3 linked regions of the Homo sapiens genome follow. The protein of the gene in region 1 purifies or fractionates together with the protein of each later gene. This does not show direct contact. Each region holds a gene or a part of one and is shown on either strand. Other genes may lie near its edges.

What was found.
Region 2: the proteins of RAB40AL (region 1) and PSME3IP1 purify together in Homo sapiens (affinity purification with mass spectrometry; 3 studies listed by BioGRID and IntAct, with this or other methods). This does not show direct contact.
Region 3: the proteins of RAB40AL (region 1) and SPTB purify together in Homo sapiens (affinity purification with mass spectrometry; 3 studies listed by BioGRID and IntAct, with this or other methods). This does not show direct contact.

The regions. Positions count from the first base shown.
Region 1 is NC_000023.11:102,932,037-102,939,271, reverse strand, and holds RAB40AL (ras-related protein Rab-40A-like), read right to left. Parts: upstream 2,001-7,235; 5' UTR 1,954-2,000; coding exon 1,117-1,953; 3' UTR 972-1,116; downstream 1-971. UniProt on the Homo sapiens protein: May act as substrate-recognition component of the ECS(RAB40) E3 ubiquitin ligase complex which mediates the ubiquitination and subsequent proteasomal degradation of target proteins.
Region 2 is NC_000016.10:57,176,040-57,183,039, reverse strand, and holds part of PSME3IP1 (PSME3-interacting protein), read left to right. Parts: intron 1-489; exon of another isoform or gene 490-1,423; coding exon of another isoform or gene 1,424-1,486; intron 1,487-4,187; exon of another isoform or gene 4,188-4,538; intron 4,539-5,886; exon of another isoform or gene 5,887-7,000. UniProt on the Homo sapiens protein: Promotes the association of the proteasome activator complex subunit PSME3 with the 20S proteasome and regulates its activity.
Region 3 is NC_000014.9:64,876,908-64,883,834, forward strand, and holds the start of SPTB (spectrin beta chain, erythrocytic), read right to left. Parts: upstream 3,001-6,927; 5' UTR 2,885-3,000; intron 2,541-2,884; exon of another isoform or gene 2,372-2,540; intron 1-2,371.

The sequences.
Region 1 (7,235 bases):
AGGACTTATATTTACTCAGTTCATCCAATATCAATTATAATAACCCACAGTGTAAACTGGAAAGTAACTACATGGAAATCACTTCTCCTTCCTTCCCATCTAAGGTCTCAGAAGTGCTTTCCCAGATGTGATCTCATTAACCTCTATATCGATCTGAGAGGTGTTAACCAAAACTGGCCAGCACAGGGGAAATTACTCACCTAAGGCCTTATAATGGGCCTGGCCCCCCGTGTTCTATTGCATTGTTTTTCTGCAAAGCCTAATCTTGCAGGGTTACATTATACATATTTTTCTTTCTTTTTCTTTTCGTTTTACCAAAAGATAAAAATATATACTTTTTTATTGTTAAGAAACATTTTCATAAATAAGTACTTATTTCATTCCTTACTGAAATGGCTTTTTTCTTACTGACCCATTGAAACCATGTTGGCTATGTTCAACATAACTAGAGATATCTTTGGCGTTTTCCTCCCTTAGCTTCATATCTTGTAGAACATCTTGTACAAAAAAGTAGATTTACAGAAAAACATACATATAAATCACTTATTAATCTCCAAATGTAGTAAAATAACATAGCAAAAACTTTATCAAATCCATTTCGTGCACAAACTGGACAGATCTGTTACGTATAATCTCTATATGCATCTGCAGTGTTTTATAAATTGGTGCTTTGACATCAAAAAGGAGGTTTACAAAAAGTCCCCTCTAGTAATATCAATGACTCGGAATGATCTCACTATCATTGCATCTCAAATTCCCTTGAATTTATACTCATCACTGTCATATCACCATTCTTACAAAAGCGGTTATTTTAAGGAAAAAGATGCAGTGTGATTATGATATAAGTAACATTCAAAATTTCATGTTATCAAGAGTTAAGCAGAGTACTAATTTCCCCTTTATAAACACATGCACATCCACGTAGAAATTCAAAGTCAAACTGCGTAAAGTGCTTTTATTGACAGAAGGCATCACACACATTCCCAAGCAGCATTGTTCCCATGAGAAACTGAAAACGTATTTCTTTGAATCTAGAATGCATCTTCCCTCTTCCAGGTGTAACCATTCAGAGTTTTTCCTGGAGCGATTCCAGCTTGTTTCCTTTTGGTGCCTTCCTTAAGAAATTTTGCAGCTGTTTCTGGTGCAGTTTTTGGGTGGGCTCTGGGGTGGGCAGACGATCTTCACTTTGCAGAGGCTGCTCCTTTTGTGAGTGGAGCTGGTGGTGAGGGAGTAGGAGAGGCCTCGCATCATCCTGGCATTCAGGCCCTTAGCCATGGAGAAGGACTTGAGGTGGCTTCTTAAGGCAATGGGGAGCGGGAGCTTGTCCACCAGATGCACAGGTGTGCAGGACACGATGGTGCGGCAGCAGAGGTCTTGCAAGCTCAGTACCTTGCTCGGCCTCCCGAGCCAGTTCAACCTGTGCCGCAGCAGCACTATCCTGGCCAGCTCCGTGAAAGACTCTATGATGTTGAAATTGCACAGAGGGCTGACCTCAAAGAAGGTCACGCCCAGGCGCTCGGCGTAGGCCTGGGCCTGCTCCCTGGGCACCTGCCTCTTGAATGCCAGATGTAGGCGATTCCCCACCAGGATTTTAGGGACACCAGGGGCATGTTCCTCAATCTTCTTAATCCATCGATCCATACCCTCGAAAGACCAGCGGTTTGCAATGTCGTAGACCAGGATCACTCCTTGTGCACCACGAGAGTAGGAGCGGAATATGGTACAAAATCTTCCCTGCCCCGACGTATCCCAGAGCTTCAGCTTCACCCGCTGGCCGTCCAGCAGGATGGTGGTCGTCTTGTAGTCGATTCCCCCCAGGTGACTGTACGGGGACTCGGCCGTGCCGTCCTGCAGGCTCTCCAGGATCTCACTCTTGCCTACGTCCCTGTCGCCCACCAGCAGGAACTTGAGCAGGAAGTCGTAGGCCTGGTCGGGGCTGCCCGGGGCGCTCATCGTGCTGGCCCCGCCCCCCGCCTGGGCCAGACCAGCAAGGTTGTGCGCAGAGGCGGTGCCGGGCCTATTTTTCTTGAGAAATTAGCATAGAACATAAAAAATGGGATGGGGAAGTCTACGAAATAAAGTGAAATGAGGTGGTGGCTTTGATGGTTTTCTTTTACAAACCCTGGGAAACCGGTTCAGCGATTGTTTTCCTTTTTCTTACCCAGCACAGAGTAGTGACACAGCAGTTAATTCATCATGGAAACCTATACATTTCCCTTAAAACTTTCATGTGATCGTTATGGAACCATGCCTTTTGGATTATGTCAAAGGAATCTCCTTTAAAGGAAGGACGGGTATGAGATAGGAAGCAGACTAAGATGTGTTGAGTACCGTATGTACCCTACGCTGTGTATGACGCTTAAAATAATTTGTTCTTTTACTTCTCAGAACAATTGTCTTTGGTAGCTATGATTGTTTTCATTTTACAAATGAGAAAAGGCAAACTCAGAAATGTTACGTAATTTTTAAAAATCTTGCCGTTAGTATAGAGATCACAGAAATCACAATCCTGAGCCAGTGCTCTCCTTATATAATGCCCCACACATCCTTTCTACTCTGTGGCCATGCCGGGTTTAGGAGTAAGTGTGAACTGTCTGTGCATGTGATCCTTGACAAGCCACGCATGTTTGCATGGGCACTAACACATTTTTTGCTGCAGGGGGACATCTCCCATAAATATAAGAGCCAAGATCTCAGAAGAAACATCTAGGATATGGATTTTTCTAGAGTGTCTCATAAATAATATTCAGCCAAGAAAGATGTGTTGAAATAACGCATGCATAGATCAATGAAGGGTTTTAGATTTAACACACGTACAGATCCTATAACAAAACAGCAAAACTGACAAAATATATAAATGGTTCATGGATGATGAAATGCAAATGGCCAATAATCATAAGAAAATGCATTCTAGCTCACTAATATATAAGGAATGCAAATGCAACTATCTAAATATACTTTTATCACCTATCGTTTGACAAAATTTCAATGTAGAAAAAACTGAATAAGAATTTTTTTTTAATTTGCAAAAGAAAAAGGTAAAAGTGGCTCTGTGTGTGTCTGTGTATGGGGGCAGGATGAGGGACCAAATACATCAAGGAAATGGAAACACACTTCTCAGTTATAAATGCATTTAAATATTGTAACTACAACAGGTATAAAGATGGTTAAAGGAATGAGAATGCTCAGACACATATAAGGGAGTTTAAATTATTGAAATCAAGCCCCAAGGGATAGATGTGTAAGCATGTAATGGATGAAACATTTTTCACATGTACAAAATAGCCAGGTAAGAGGTTATTTGCTACAGTATTGCTGAAATCTTTTTAAAAAGGAAAAAATGAGAAGCATTCTAAATACTCATCAATACAGAACAAACAATAACAAAGTTGTCTCCCTAATTTACACAAACTCCCCTAAAGACATCGCCATGATCTGAATGGTGGAATCTGACCATTTCTTAAGCCTTGGAAGTGCATCTTCTAAAAGGGAGGTGCTCTCAGGGTCCTCTAGGGAGGGTGAGGGATAGAACCTCATTCCAATCCTGCCACTTACCTCAAGAGGCGACTTAGGTTCTGTGAGCCTGAGCTTGGTCATCTGTGAAATGGGACTGACTATACCATCCTCACGGAGTTATTCCCAGGCATAAATGGGAAAACCTGTCCAGGGTATATGGCATGGAATGGGAGGCTTCAATGGCCCTTTAAATATTGAGACATAGCAGTAGGGGTTAGCTGAACCTCAAGGCCAAGGCAGGCATCGTGAAAAATCATTACTCATTGTTTCTCCTAATGAAAACACAGACATCCATATAAAGAAGGCAAATCTCCCTGATACACCTTGATTTCAGAGTTTTAGAGATGGAGTTCTCTACATTCTTGTGTGTTTCATAATCTCACGAAAACTGTTCAACATCATGCCTCCGAGAAGACACAAAACCAGTTCCCCATGCTGGTAAGAAAAAAACTGATCGGTGTAAATGTAAAAACATATGCTCCAGGGCATCCACAAAATGAAACACCAGGTAGCAGTGACGGGGCTGTAGAAAGGTGACGGAGAGAGGTCGGAGGCACTGGAGCAGCATCTGGGGAACTGTGTCTATAGTGTCCTGGAGAGGGGAAGACTGAAAGAGAGTGTGAGAAGGTCTGAGAAGCCTGTACAGGGATAGAGTTATGGAGAGTGAATGCCTTGCTCTCTGGAGGGACCCCTCCTCCCCCGCCCCCGCCCCCGCCCCCTCCGACAGTGTGGACACTTCAACCTACACTGAGAAGGGAAGAGATGATAAATCAGTGAATGCGATGTAGATTTAGGGGTCAACAGCAAATGGACCTGCTTTAATATACATGTGAATTTTCCAAACAGAACTGGAATCAAAGTAAACAAGTCATTTTGAAACATGTTACTCTGCAAAATGTACAAAAACAGAGATAGCTCTGATGCCTCCTAGTGGCCAGAGACAGAAACGCAGCTCTGATAATCTCAAACCAGGGACTCAGGAAGAGGGAGGCATGGAGGTTGGAGGTTAGCTCCAATGTATCAGCCACAGTTTTCTGGAATTATTCACCTAATGGTAGCAATTTCCATGTATCCATCATGTTCCAGAATATATGAAACTGATATTGGTTCCAATCCCCGCTGGAACTAAAGTTGCATCCATGATTTTGTATTTGGGGTGGTAGAGCTAGAGGACACACCCACACAAACACCCACACACACACACAAAACCTCTGTCAATTGGACTTGTTATTTACTTCTTTCACAATAAAATAGAATATAAGGAATGCTTTTTCAAATTAATGGACATTATGTACACCTTAACTTTGACAATTTGTTCCAAAGTATTTTGTGTGTTCAAATTTTCATCAGAATACTTTTATTCCCAAATACCAGTTTTTGAACAGTACACAAGAGCATATTGATAAATCAAAATTAACCTGAGCTCTCACTGGTCAACTCCCACTCCTTAACCCCAAGGGGTCTGCTGTTCCTAGGATGGTGCATACTCTCCAGACATGTCCCTGAAGGTGAGGTACACATCAACACGTTCACCTACACACACACATTGTCTTCTCCAAAAGTGCAATCATGGTACTTATCTTTTGCATCTTGTCATTATAAATTCTCAAGATTTTAAAATATTTGCATTTTATTAGTTCTTGTGGGGTTGGCGTATTTTAGTATGTTTATTGTTCATGTACATTTCATTTAAATTCTCTGTTGAAATAGTTGCCATTTTGTTACTATGTTTCACAAATCATGGATACTAACCCAATTAAACTTCAAAATTTGACTTTAAAATTACACAGATCTTAAATTTCAAAGAAAAAACATTGAAAAACACCTGGGGAGCAGGTACTGCCAGCCTGGAGGGAGATTAGAGCATTCAGGGCCCTGGAGGAATGAAGAGAAATGATAAAAGTCTAGAGTATTACAGAGTTTGTGCTTATCAGGAAACAACAAAGTTGTCTCCCTGATTTACGTAAACTCCTCTAAAGGCAGCAGCCTAATTTGAATAATGGTGATAATGACCTTGGGTAGCAGTTAAGATTAAAGGAGATGAGGTGTAAAGTGCATTTGCTTACAGTAATTCAGTGCATGTTTCTTTCCTTCTCTGCAGCTCACCTGTCCCAAGGCCAACACCTGAGCTTCTGCCTGAGCCCACTTGCCACTTTAAGGATCAGCCCTCTCATGTGGCCCTACAACCAGATCTCATGGCACAAAGCACAGGATTTCACTTCCCCTGTCATCTTCAGAGGAGTTGTTGAGTGGGAACCCATGGGACTACAATAGCAGGGGAGTGGAATCTGACCATTTCTCAAACCCTGGAAAGCCATCTTCTAAAAGGGGGTGCTCAGGGTCCTCTAGGGAAGGTGAGGGATGGAACCTCATTCCAATCCTGCCACTTACTTGGAAAAGTGATTTAGGCTCTGTGAGCCTGAGCTTGGTTAGCTGTGAAATGGGATTGACTATACCAACCTTACAGAGCAGTCCTGAGGGGTAAATGAGAAAATCTGTTGAGAATATACAGCAGGGAGTGGCCTTTAAGTATTGGTACACAGCATGAGGGGCTGGCTGAGCCTCAAGGCTAAGGTAGTCATCATGAAAAAATCACTTCTCATTGTTTCGCCTAATGACAACACAAACATCGTGAAGAAAGAAGCAATCTCTCTCTGAAATGCCTTAAGTTCAAAGTTTTAGAGACCAAAGGTCTCTGCATTCTTAGGTGCTTGAAAGTTCCTAAGAGCTATTCAACATCATGCCTCTGAGCAGACCCAAATCCACTTCCCCATAGTGGTAGGACAGGAGCGTTTGTGAACTCACCTGGTGAGCTCCACGACAGATCACATCAGGGACACAAGGAGTGGCAATTATCTAATGAGTGCTCCAGCACTGCTCAGTATTTTAATATGTTTATAGGAATCCTGTAGACCGGTTCTGCAGTAAACAGTGCAAGGTTCCCAGATCACACATTATCCAGCTACATTACAAGAGGATTTCAGCTATCCGCTGCCTCCTTGAGAGGCAAAAATCTAGGAATTACAAGAATTTCTATAACAGACAATTTTCTATTCTTTCATTAGGTAATAACTGAAAGTGTATTGAGCTTTAAAAGCATACTAGTCTACTGGAGGTGTCTCATTAACTAAAGTGGAAAGAGGGTAAGAATTCAAATGAATATATGGGTAACTTCATGGTTCACATTTGAGAGGAGATGGTTTCTTCAAATTAACTTTAAACTTTCTCAAACTCCAAAGAATTGAAAATTCTTTTTTGTTTTAAAAATCCTTTTTTGTTCCTCATCACCTGATACAGTTCGAATATATGTCCCTGCCAAATTTCATGTTGAATTATAATCCCCAGTGTTGGAGGTTGGGCCTGGTGTGAGGTGTTTGGGTCATGGGGGCAGATCTCTCAAGGCTTGGTACTGTCCTCATGATAGTGAGTCTCCTGAGATCTGGTTAAGTGTGTGGCACCCCCCCGCCCCCCCACCGCTCCCACCGCCACTTTCTCTCTCCTGCTTTCACCATGTGACATACATACTTCAGCTTCACGTTCCATCATGAGTAAAAGCTCCCTGAGGCCTTCTCAGAAGCTAAACAGATGTTGGTGCCATGTTTGTAAGCCTGCAGAACCATGAGCCAATTAAACATCTATTCTTTATAAATTACCCAGTCTTAGGCATTTCTTTATAGCAATGCAAGAATGGCCTAATACATCATCAATTCAATTCAGCC
Region 2 (7,000 bases), on another chromosome or scaffold:
GCTGTGTGCCAACCTTATGTCTTTTACTGAATGAGTGTAAGTTCCTCAGTTGCCTGTTTAGTACATAGCATTGTATCTTGCACATAATAGGTTCTCGGTAAATATTTGCTTCAAAAATCTTTTTTCTTTGAGATGGAGTCTCGCCCACTTCGCGCAGGCTGGAGTGCAGTGGCGCGATCTCGGCTCACTACAACCTCCGCCTCCCGGGTTCAAGCAACTCTCCTTCCTCAGCCTCCCGAGTAGCTGGGATTACAGGCATGTGCTACTACGCCTGGCTAATTTTCATATTTTTAGTAGAGACGGAGTTTCACCATGTTGGTCAGGCTGGTCTCGAACTTCTGACCTCAGGTGATCCACCTGCCTCAGTCTCCCAGAGTGCTAGGGTTACAGGCATGAGCCACTGCGCCAAAAAAAAAAAAAAAAAAAATCTTAGTTGGCCTTGTCTGGTTATTGTAATGCAAAGTTTTTTTTTTTTTTTTTTTTTTTTTAAGGGAAATGGGTATCTCCTTATGTTGCCCGGGCTGGCCTTGAACTCCTAGGCTCAAGCAGTCCTCCAGTCTCAGCCTCCTGAGTAACTGGGACTGCGTTTTTTTGTTTTATTTTGTTTTTAATTTGGTCTTGAAGTGGAGTTATATAGGGTGGGGGGAGGGAGGATGGAGTATGACTTGAGGTGTGGGTTAGGTTCTGAAGCGAGCCTAGATGACAAAATAGCTTACAAGCAAAGCTACCCTTGAAATCTCAGGGAGGCAGCATGTTAATTGTAGGAATACCAGTGTTGCAGAACTCTGACATGGCCAGTGTGATATTGTAAAATACATATTTGGCCTTCATCCCTGTCTCCTGTGGCATATGACTCCTATAATCCTTGAAATCTCCAAAATGATTAGTGTCTTTTTATATGCTAAGGAGCTGACTGATGGCTGGCAGCCCCTAAGTAACTTTAGCATGGGGGCTGGTCACTTGAAAGACCCAGGCAGGATTAGAGGGTTGGGACCTTCAACCAATGTCCAACCTCTGGGGAGAGGAGAAGGCAGACGAGCTGATGACCACCAGCGTCACTGGTTTAATTAGTCATGTCTAAGTAATGAAGCTTCCATAAAAATCCAAAAGACTGGGATTGGGGAGCTTCTGGATAGGTGGACATGAGAGGTTCCTGGATGATGGTGCCCCAGAGAGTGCATGGAAGCTCTGTGCCCTTCCCACATGCCTTGCCCTATGCATTGCTTCATCTGTATCCTTTGTAATATGCTTTTATAATAAACCAGTATATGTAAGTAAAGTGTTCCTCTAAGTTCCTCTAAGTTCTGTGAATTGGTCTAGCAAATTAATAGAACCTAAGGAGGGGGTCATGGGAACCCTGATTAATAGCCAGTTGGTTAGAACTACAGGTAAAACAACCTGATTCTTGTGGTTGGTATCTAAAATGGAGGCTAGTCTTGTGGGACTCACCCCTCAACCTATGGGATCTGACGCGGTCTCCATCCAGGTAGGTAGTGTCAGAATTGAACTGAATTAGAGGACACCCAGCTGGTTGGTGTCTGCTACAGAATTGGTTGGTTGCTTGGTGTGTGGGGACATATCCCTCACAGAATTATACTGTGTTGATTGTTGAGTGAGAGAATAGCAAAAATGCTTTGGTTTGGTTTGGGTTTTTTTTTTCTCTATATCCTCAGGCAAGTTTTATTTCGGCTTTGGAAAAAACTGCTGTTTTTCTTCCTGTGAGCCCCAGATGAAGTTGTTGGTTTGTATTTAGGAGTCACAATATGTAAAAAATACAATGAATACAATCATTCATGCATAGTGAGGGAAGTATTTATATTCAGAGAGGTGCATGTGAATGAGGATCAGCTAAGGGAACCGATATTTAAATTAGTTATCTTTCTTCTAGTGTGTATAGGTGAATTCAAGATAAATGCACATTTGAGACCCTGCCCTTGTGCTATGGAAAGATAAATAAATCAATACTTTTTTTTTAACTTCTTTTTTTTCCCCCTCGCCAGGCAAGGTCGGTCTTGTGCTGTTGCCCAGGCTGTAGTGCAATGGCCCTCATAGCTCACTGTAGCCTGGAACTCCTTGGCTGAAGCCTTCCTCCCACTTCAGCCTCCTAAGTAGTGCACCATCACACCTGGCTAATTTTTAAATATTTTTGTAGAGAGAGAGTCTCACTGTGTTGCCCAGGCTGGTCTTAAATTCCTGGCCTTAAGTGATGCTCCCAGCTTGGCCTCCCACAGCTTTGGGACTGCAGGCATGAGCCACTGTGCCTAGCCTGTTTGTCTGTTTGTTTGTTTGTTTGTTTTTAATAGAGTTGGGGTCTCACCATCTTGCCCAGGCAGGTCTTGAACTCCTGGGCTCAAACAATCCTGCCTTGGCCTCCCAAAGTGCTCAGATTGCAGGTGTGAGCTAGTGCACCAGGCCTTAATTTCTTTTCTTTTTTTTTTTTCTTTTTCTGAGACGGAGTCTTGCTCTATTGCCCAGGCTGGAGTGCAGCGGCGTGAAATCTCAGTTCACTGCAACCTTCGCCTCCTGGGTTCAAGCGATTCTCCTGCCTCAGCCTCCCAGGTAGCTGGCATTACAGGCACATGTCACCACAGCCAGCTAATTTTTGTATTTTTAGTAGAAATGGGGTTTCACCCTGTTGGCCAGGCTGGTCTTGAACTCCTGACCTCAAGCGATCCTCCTGCCTCAGCCTCCCAAAGTGCTAGGATTACAGGTGTGAGCCACCATGCCTGGCTGAATTTCTTATTGTATGTGTTTCATAGATGCCTGAAAGATTATTGCAAAGCTGAATTTTTTATTGTATGTGTTTCATAGATGCCTGAAAGGTTATTGCAAATTGCTCCTTATGATAAACATTTAAAATATGGATTAAATTTCTTTTTCTGTGGTTTAGTTTTTAGATTCTTTTAGTCTCCTTTGCTACCGGAATATGTTAATTAAGCTTTGGTGTTAGAAGATTGACTTCACTTTGCCTAGTAATAAATACTAACAGCGGGCTCTCTGTTAGTAGTTGTTGTTCTCTAAATAAATTTTATGATATAGGAAAAGTCAGCTAAATTTTTAAAAATCTAAATAACTGTATCTTGGTAGAAGTGCCTTCTGGCCAGAAATAAGTCTTTATTTGAAATATAGATGAGTTAGCCAGATGGCAAATTCCTCTTAGTTGCTGTCCTGCATTTTGAAGTACAGTGTGACTTGAACATCAGAGTAAAAAATGTTGGAAAGCAATAATCTATATTTACTCACAAAAGGAAATGGATTGACCTATTGCTTTTGCTACTGAAAGTGAAGCCTTAAAACAACAGAACACAGAAACCTGATTCTGGTGTGTTTTAACATGTACAATCTAATTAATTTTAGAATTAGAAGGATATGGTGGCCAGTGATGTAAACACTCAAGTAGTTTGCCATCACATAATTCAATTCCATAGGAAACCAGATCTCATTACTTTGTGTCATGGCACTAGCTAAATGGAGTCATTTTTCAAGTTAGGAATAGCAATTATTTGGGGAGCAACAATGTAAGTTTTGTATTTTAAAACATGTGTAGTGTGCTATGTAAGAACTGAGCCCATTTTGTCCCACCACCCTGGAAATTAAATGGGACGGTCTCCAATGTAAACCCAGTAGTTCAGTGTTACCAGTTACTTTGGCTTGAAATATAAGAACTTTGTTTTCTTGACGGTCAGGCAGATTTGAAAACCACGTTCTTTATTTGTGCCAATTTGGACTCTAAGTTTGGTGGACAAAGTGAATTTTGAAATGGTTTTAGTTTTCCATGAATTCCCTATTTGAAGAAATTGAATAAATCCTTTAAAAAATAATGTAATGTTTAGTTTGATAATTAAACTTGAGTCACTTTGGAAAACGTGAGTAAAGGAAAGCTGACAGCATTTGTTTACTCTTTCTAAAGTGGAACACAGTAAGGACAAAGTAAGCATTCCTAATGTAAGTCCTCTGCATTCCTACAGGGCTCTTCACAGTTAGAGCCCGTATCCCTGATATCCCTGGGCTGTTTGTCTTTTGATTTGTTTTTAATTACCCTAGCAAACAAAAGGGAAAAAGAAGAGACTTGTGAAAATTTACCTAGACAATAGGAATTAGAAGTCAACACAATCTAATTTTCTAGCTTCTTTGTCTACTTCCAGCAGGTCAGTAAGTTACAGGTACTTATCACCTCTTTCTTGCAGAATAAACAGCCATTGGACTCTTCAAACAAAAACGCTGTCTCCATCAAGTACTGCTTTCGCAGGATAAGTGACCATTTTTAATCAGTTGAAATTAACGGAAAGTAGCAGTTATTTTTGAAAGATGACATCAATTATATAATATAGTAAAGAGATTTAATTTTTAGTCCTTTGTTTCTTACTGCACAAATTGTATGGCGTTTGAATAGAATTCCCATGATACTGACACTTCAGCAAATACTTGCTTGATGGCTACCAATCTCTATAACTTACATTGCACAGTACCTAGGAATATTCATGTGAGTTCATTCCTCCCTGCTCAGATTCTTCAGCTCCTCGTGGTTGGTTTATTCAGTAAGTATTTGAATACCTAATATATGCCAGACACTGTGCTAATAATAATAAGCACTGTGGAGACAAAGAGCTGTTGGAACAGTCACAGATGATAAAACACAAAGAATAAGGGCTGTAGTAGAGTTATGAATGATCATAGCAGGAACACAAAGGAAGGAAATACATATTAACTACTCTAGGAGGTCTTGGAAAGCTTCATAAAGGAGATGGTCTTTAGTCTGATTCTGGGCGGTTGGAGCAGCAGTTTGCATCGGGTGAAAAGAAAGCAAGGGCATTCCTGGCAGAGGGAACAGCCTGAGCAAAGCCATGCAGAGAATGAAGACCTACAGAAGAAAATGCTAATTTGAAAAAAGATGCATAAAGCAGTCTATGTTTTAGTCTAGTCTTTTTAAACTTACAGAAATTTATTACTATGTGTGTCCATCTAACTTGGCTTATTTTCTTTATTTGGGGATCAAGGGAATGCCAGAATTATGATATTAGTTTTATTACTAATTAATTAATTTATTTATTGAGACAGGGTCTCACTCTGTTGCCCAGGCTAGAGCGCAGTGGTGCGATCATGGGTCACTGCAGCCTTAGCCTCCTGGAGTAAATGATCCTCCCACCTCAGCCTGTGAGTAGCTGGGACTACAGGCACACATCACCATGCCTGGCTAGTTTTTTAAATTTTTTGTAGAGATGGGGGGTCTCACTTTGTTGCCCAGGCTGGTCCTCCTGCCTTGGCCTCCCAAAGTGTTGGGATTATAGGCATGAGCCACCATGCCCAGCCTGAATTAAGATATTAGTTTTAAAGAGCAGACTTTTGTAAGTGTGCATTAGTTTTGACAGTGTGACTGTGTTTTCAGGACACCAACCCACTGAGAGCTGATGAGAAATACATTTCTTGTATTTTTCTTTCCCCTGCAACGCTTGCCTTTAAATTTTTTTTTTAAATATGCATTTACTTTATTTCTTATTTTCATTAACCAACTGATTTCTGGTTTTGTCCCTGTGTATAAAAGATTGTAGGCCGGGCACAGTGGCTCATGCCTATAACCCCAGCACTTTGGCAGGCTGAGGTGGGCAGATTGTATTGCTTGAGTCCAGGAGTTTGAGACCAGCCTGGGCAACATGGTGAAACCCTGTTTCACGAAAAAAAAAAAAAAAAAAATTAGCCAGGTGTAGTGGTGCATGCCTGTAGTCCCAGCTATTCGGGAGGCTGAGGCATGAGAACTGCTTGAGCCCAGGAGGCTCTCTGAATTCTTATTTAGGTAGAAATGTAAAATTCTAGGGTTTGTTTTTATTGTTGTTGTTGTTGTTTTTGGCATATTGGAAGATTTTTAAATTTTCTCTTTTAAAAATATAGGCCGGGTGCAGTGGCTCACACCTGTAATCCCAACACTTTGGGAGGCCAAGGCCGGTGGATCACCTGAGGTCAGGAGTTCGAGACCAGCCTGGCCAACATAATGAAAGCCCATCTTTACTAAAAATACAAAAATTAGCCGGGCATGGTAGCACACACCTGTAATCCCAGCTACTCAGGAGGCTGAGGCAGGAGAATCGCTTGAATCTGGGAAGCGGAGGTTGCAGTGAGCCAAGATCGTGCCACTGCACTCCGGCCTGGGCGGCAGAGCGAGACTCTGTCTTAAAAAAAAAAAATTATATATATATAACAAGAATGAAGAGAGACATTTACTGGGACACCAATGGCATTGCCGTATCCTAGTATTTATTTCCCAGGTTTAAATCATATCTAATCTGATAAATTCATTTCCTTCAGACATGATTATTTTTCTCCATCTTATAAAATTAAAGTAACTAGGAATGTTTGGCTCAGAAAAGCAACAAATTAGGAGGAACATGGGAATTGTCTTCAAACAACTGAAGTATGGTCATGTTAGAAAAGATTTGATTCTTTTTGTATAGTCCCAGTGGATTGAACCTATGTATTGAATTTATAGTAAAACAGATTTCAGTTCAGTTTAAGGAAGAACTATCCTAACAGTCAAATCTGCTTAGAGAGGGAGTTGGCTGCCTAGGAAGGGAATGCAGTGGTCCCTCTTGAAGTTTTAATATATGAGTTGGATGACCTTCTCCTGGGTGTGTATGGTAAATTCAGATGTCGAGTGGATTATCATATTAGGTGGGCTATAAGGACTATCCCACCCTGAATTATTTACTAGGAAAAATGGGTGATGGAAAGAAACCAGATGATTAATACAGGATGAGAAAGGAGACACGGTTAATAGGGGATAAGAAAGGGGGAAATTGAGGGTTCGGAATGTCTCTCCCAACCATTAGAGCCCTAGAAAGTTCACGTTTTCTCTGCCAGAGACATTTAAGAAATTGTTGGCTCTGGTTTCATAAGAGGTTGTTCTGTAGAACTTGAGGAATTTTTGGCATTTTCACAGAGACTGAACAGTTCTGCTTCAGTAATGAGCCTCTGGCTGGAGTCATTGAGTGCTGCTAAATCAGAAGTG
Region 3 (6,927 bases), on another chromosome or scaffold:
TAATAAGAAGTGTGGGTGCCATAGCTACACATCAATGATCAGGTACATTCAGTTAGGTCTTGCCTTTAAGCCAGTAAGTATGCACATGGAAGGCTGGGTTCAGTGACCTCCAGAATCCCTTCCCTCTCCAATAGTGTTTGCCTCATGAATTTTTTATAGCCATCCTCTGTCCTATCACACTGTCCCTATGTATCATCAAGCCCTCCTGGCCACTTCCAGGACTGAAAGGAAAATCTGTTCTTTAAAAAAAAAAAAAAAAATCCATGCTTTGACTCCTGCCAAAATTATAGTTCTGTCCTTGAAACAATGACCTGAAAATAATGGGTAAGGCTAAGAACCTCTGAGCAAATAAATGCCCAATATTATCTTCAGATAATATTTTTTAAGCTCCTCTGATATAAGCAGAACTATTACCTGAGGTCCTGGGAATGAAGATTATGAAGCTAGAAGACAAACAGTCAAATCTTCCCAACTTGTACTTTATATTCCCTGCTGAGTGTCTAACCTTAAAAAGAAGGTAGAACCAAACAAACTGAGTTTGAATCCTGGACCCATCTCTCATTAGCTGGGTAATATGAGGCAAGTTATTTAATCTTCCTGAACCTGTTTCCTTACTTGTAAAATGTTGATATGAGCTACCTTATAGAGTTACCATGACAATTAAATTGGATAATATAGAGAAAACGCTGAGCATTCATTTGTTGGTTTCCTCATTCATTCAACAAAGGTTAACTGAGGTTCCACTACCATCCAGGTACTGGGTACAACAACATAAAAGACAGAATAAAAGCTATTATTATTTACCAAAAACAGTTTGTTTCCAGAGCTGCAGCAGACCTGTCAAATTTTGACTTTAGTTCAAAACTGTCATTCACACCTAGCTTGCCTAAAATACTCATTTTTATTTTGCCAAATGTGATCCCAGGTAGGAGTCTTGCTCCTGTCATACCTTCACCCCCAAAACTAGTCATCTAGCAGGCGTTCTGCTATAGGACACCTTCAGAACACTTGGAAGAAGCATTGATCAGAGCCAAAGGTGGTATCCCAACTCTCTTCTGGGCAAGCCGCTCAGGAGAACTTGATACGCCTGTGCTACAAGGCCCATCCTGGATGCCTGGGAGTCCTTGGGTGCTTACAATTCCATGAGTGGACTCTGAGTCTTCCCAGAACTCAAGATCAATAGGACTGGCTCATCCCCATCATTGCCACTGGGGCACTGATAAAGCTAAGAGCAACAGCTAAGGGGTCTGAAAGCCACATTTTCATGAGCGTTTATGTCTTTCAATGGTGCTTTACTCTAGAGTTTTTGATAAAATTCTTTATAAATGACCCACCTCTGGAGTTAGTGGGTTTCAAGGCTGGTGGGCTCTTCTTCAATGTAAGTTTAACATTCCCTTTCCTGGCTAGCCTGCAAGCCTCCAGGCAAGCACAGGCCTAGCTGTGTCAGGTGCTGGACATTCAGCATACATTAACAATCATTTTGCACTTAGAAAAAAAAAGGTGTTTTCAATTGCATTTTGGAACCTGGGACTCAGAGCAAAAGAATAAAAGCTGAATCCTAAAATAAGAAATGACCTGCCTTGGGTTATAGTGGGGGAAGGGGTGGGCGAAGAGGGAATTCTAGAATAAAATTCAGAGCCATCTGTGAAGCTAAGGATAGGACAGTGGACAGTTGAGCTGTGCCTAAAAATCTTTGATTTGCAGACTCCTCTCATTAGGGAGCCGCCTGAATCTCTTCCCTTAGAAACTAAAATACGGATCGTGACTACCTCCAGGCAGGGGTTTTGCATGACTGCCTCCTACCTGGAGGTGACAGCCTAGTCTCTCCCCACAGAAATTCTCAGTACAAAAAGGCTGTCACTATATCCCCCCACCCCACCCCCCAATCTGATGCATCTAAAATTTAGATGTACAAAAAACAGTGGCTTCTTTTCATTTTCCTTACTCCTGGCTGGCGCCTCTAATTGCTCACTGAAAACAGTGGTTTGGATATTAATAGGCTGTAACTCAAGGCCCTACCTGAAGCTCGTTGTCAGGGAAACAGCACTCCAGCCCCGCAGCTGCTTCCCCAGCCTGGGAAGTACGGATGAGTTGGTGGGAGTTGGGGATTGTTTTACAGCTTCTGTTATTTCTCCCACTTTCTGCTATTTCTCAAGACCAAGTTAGAGGAAGAGGGGAAACTGGAGAGGAGGGTGAGGGTAGAGTAGCCCGGAGAAGCTTAGAGGAAGAGAGGAACTCTTTGGGAGAGGAAGACTAGGGGTCCTTGAAGTATGGCTTGGGGCACTAGGATCTTTCCTCCCTCGGTCTACACGGGGTCACTCTCTGGGTGGCTCCCAGCACCCGGAGGCCCGGCCCCCTCTGCTGCCCTCACCTGTCCCTCCTGCCTGGGCGCTGGGTGGCCCGAGGAGAGCGCAGCCAAGTTCCCCAGAAGAGGGATATGAGCGGCCACAAGGCTGAGAAGCCGGACAAAAAAAGGCAGAGAGCAGCGCTGCGGTCGGACGGGCTAGAGGCGCAATCCCCTTCGCTCCCAGGCCGGGGTCCTGGAGAAGGCGGACGAGAACACGCACCCCCGTCACCCTCTCCCTGCGCCCCGGGGTGACGGACTCTCCGGGATCCCGCTCTCCAAAGCTAGCACCAAGTGCCTCGGACGCCCGCGCGCGTTCCCGCGTCCCGGGATGATCTTTGCCGCAGCTGCCGGGCTTCCCGGGCCCCGCACCCCTCCCACCCCACGCCCGACAACCGGGGCTGGACTCCCACCCGGTCCTCTGGGCCCTGCGCGTCAGGCGCCCCCTGGGCCCAGCGCTCCTTTGAGCTGGCGCCGCGCGTCCCAGCCTTGCGCACCCGCACCCAGCTCCCTTGGCCGCCGGGCCCTCCTGGGACTCACCTGCCCTGGGACTGAAGCGGGGGCCACCCCGAGCCCGGGGGTGGCGGCGGCGGCGGCGCAGGGGGAGGAGGGCAGCGCGGGGCTCCTGGCACAGCGGCCGCCGGGCGCCTGGTGCTGCCGAGCCGCGGACCCGCCCAGAGATATAAATAACATTATCTGAGGAGGGACATTCCTGCCGGGGGACATCGCTGCTGCCGGGACCAGATAGTCCCGCGGCGGGGGCGGGGAGGCGGGGCCGCAGCCTCCCGCAGCGCCAAGCCCAGCCCCCGCCTTCCCCACCCACTCACGCACCTGCCAATCAGCCTCCGCGCCTGGGGGCACCTGCCGGGCCTCAGCCCGGCTCCTGGAACCCGCCTCTGCCTCCCCGCCCGCCGCTGAGCCTGGGGCGCCTCCATCGTCGTTCATTGCCCCTAACCCCGCGCCACCCCGAGCCCCCTGAGGCGGGAAGGGGGTTGGACTCTAGCTCGGGCCTAATTCGTGCGCCCGGAGAGGCAAGCCTGGTGGCGAAAATGAGCCCTCCAGCCTTTCCCGCCCTGCATCCCCACTGCACACAGTTCAGTTTTTAAAATATATGAAAAGACATTTAGGCCATAGGGTGGGCGCGGCGGGTACCCGGGAGGTGAACCCCCGCCGTGGCGGGTTTGGGAGGGACAGATTGTTCCCGGGGGCTGGTGCATTAGAAAGCGCGCTCCCGGGCGGGCTTCTCTCGGCTGGCGGTGGGAGGGCAGGGGGCGGGCACTGGGCCCGAGGGCCCCACCCCCAGCCCGAGCTCAGTGTCGCTGTTTCTGCCCGAAAACCTAGTGTAATCAGGACGAACCAGGCAAAGCTGGCGGCGCGCAGCCTGCAGTCCCAAGGAGCTCGCACATTGTAGGGACTGTAATCAACAGGCAGGCTGCCACACCTGCCCACTGGCACCTCCTGGCCGGCCCGGGTCTCCGGGCGAGTGGGGGTGCCTCACTACAAGCCTGGATGAGGCGCGGCGCAGCAGGCCAGAGGAAATACTAGAACCGATGGTGCCAAAAAGGCATCTCCGAGTTGCCCCCGGAGAGAAACTCAATAGAACACCGGCAGCTTGCAAGGCAGTACATTTTCTTGACTTTCTAACGATCAAGGTCATTGTTCAGTAAGGTTTACGTGTACGCCTTGAGGTAGCTTTCATCTCTTTTCTCCACCTGCGGTGCCTGGGATGATTTCTCACCAGCTATCAACGCAGGTAATCTCAGGTATTATGGAAATGGCCGTGGAGATTAAAAGCGCATAGATGCAGAAGAAGTTTTAACTTTTACTGATGCTGCCTGGTGTTCTTAACAAGGGAACAGTCTTACTCCTGAGTTATTTGCTTGGGATTATAATTGTGCTGTTTTCCAGAATTCACCCAGGAAAGGGGTGTTTGCCAGATGTTCGAGTTTAGTTTATATATTGAACATATGCAAAGATACTTCACTTCCTGCTGCAGTCCCACTTCTTGAGGGTGGGTATTTAGACACTGAGATGTGCTGAGTGGGACAAACGCCCCAGGTATTACAGAGCCACAGAATTCTTCACTCCACCCTCCTCTTGGCTGGATCCTTATTACAGCTCAATTTTCCAAGAGACACTAGTAATATGGGAAAGAGGATACAAAAACATTCATGGTCATCGATAGATTCGCAGTGATCCCCTCCTCCCCTTTGTTGACAACATTTAAGAATGCATTTTTCTATTACTGAGTTAAAAAGAGAAAGTTCTGTTTTGTGAAAAAAAATGTTTAAAAGTCAAATTCTGGCAAGGAAAGCTCAAGAAAAACAGGCCAACTTCAAAAGCTGAGACTATTATATATCTCAAGAAGAAATCCTTCATCTATTTTTGTTAGAAAAAAATGGAGGGAAATTATGTATTTATGGTTTTTTAAAAGCTTGTATGAATAAACTTATTAGATAAATTCATGGTTCTCTAGAATGGTGGTTCTGCAGCTACGTAATTATATACTATGCAAGCCAGATAATTCCTTAGCTATAGGTCTGTGGCACTGAACTGAATAGTTGCATACATATTTTTCTTTGTAGCCTTAAAATTTATAATTTTCAACCATAAGAAAAAATTAATATGATAAAACTCCAAATCAGCAGACAGATTACCCCAACATTTTACAAACCAGCTCAGCTGCTTTAGTTATCTCCACTTTAGCTGAAAGCTAAATAATTCAATACAACCTCATTTGCTACAGAGCATGTTATCCTGACAGCATCCCCAAATGCTTTACAGCTAATAGAGTTACAGTGAAATGATAAATCAGAACTGAGGAAGAGAGGAAATTTAGGCTTGCAGTGAGGAAAGGGCATTGTCAAATAATAGGGAAAGGGGAACAGATCTCTGTGGCCAGGAATGAGAAATTGGGAGAATAAAAGAAGGGAGAAAGGTTGGGCATGGTGACTCACACCTGTAATCCCAGTACTTTGGGAGGCCGAGGCAGGCGGATCACTTGAGGTCAGGAGTTCAAGACAAGCCTGGCCAACATGGCAAAACCCTATCTCTACTAAAAACACAAAAATTAGCTGGGTGTGGTGGTGCGCACCTGTAATCCCAGCTACTTGGGAAGCTGAGGCAGGAGAATCACTTGAACCTGGGAGGCATAGGCTGCAGTGAGCCAAGATCACGCCACTGCACTCCCACCTGGGTGACAAAGCAAGACTCTGTTTCAAAAAAAAAAAAAAAAAAAGAAGGGAGAAGGAAACACATACATATGTTCGTTATCAAGGTCATCATTGTGGGCAATAGGGATCACGTCTGGAGGGACCTCCTCAGAAGAGTATAGAATACCTCTTGGAATTGTCTATGTGAAGGATAGGAGATTAACCCTCATCCTGGTTGGACAAAGGACTGCCCCCACTGGTCTCCCACCCATGTTGAAAACCTACACTTCCGAGCTACCCAGCAAGCTCCACATAGGCAGTCTGCAGATTTGGAAGAGTTCTGGGGCCAGAAGAGAAGGTGTGCATTTGAGAATAGATGTTGACAGCCAGAGAGTGGGGGGTAAACCTTCACAGAACTGTCTACTCAGGTCTAGCTGAAACCAACAGGTGAGGCCAAGAAGATATAAGTTGAGACTTATGTTAGAATCATCTAACATAAGAGGGAACTTTCACTTTCCATTTCTGTAGTCTTTGAGTTTTTCACAATAAGCTTGTATTGTTTAATAATAAGTAGAGATGATAAATAAATTAAAAAGTAAAGATTGGATGGAGATGGTGGATTGAATACACGCATTTAGCTTCTCTTCTACCCCAAATTTCATTAGAAGATATGTCTGAAACAGGCATCTAAAAGCACAGGAAAATAAGGAAAAGGGGATCAGTGTTCCAACAATGTTCAAGAAATCCAGAGATACAGAAAAGATGCAAGATCTGATTCACAGAGAAACAAAATCAGAGGAAACCAAAACAGATTCAGGAGGAGCAATAGTTTAGGGAAGTTGCAAGCAATAGTTAAAGGATACAAGAGGAGGAGGGGCCCTGAGACAGAATAATTCACTTAGGAGCCTCCTCTGTCCTGCTCACATTAAATATCAGGTGTTTGCCTGCAGGACTTAAAAAAAAAGTTAATGGGGATCCTGGGACCCAAGGGGCAGAGCTCAGGGATCTAGTGACCCCAAGAAATGACAGAAACCATTCACTCTCTTGGGATAGCATGTCCTGACCCTTCTTCACAGCCCCTGAAGATAGGCTATGATAAGCAGAAAGAGGAGACAAGCCCATTCCCACATTAAGGGATGATAGGACAACCACCAAATATCTTATGGGGAGAGGGGAACCAATACCATGAAAGAGAAGCACCAAACCCAACTAATAGAAGGAAATAATATCAGAGGAAACTAAGTTAATAAAAGGAACAAGATAAATGTTAAATAATTTAATTTTAATCAGCAAGTCTTGAAAGGATATTGCATCCACAACAAATAATCAGTGAGAAACCTTAGAAATTTAAAAAGTCATTTCTGATATTGAAAATTCATTAGTTGAGAAGCAGAACAGACCTACTTGAAGGGCAAATTAGTGGAAACAGAA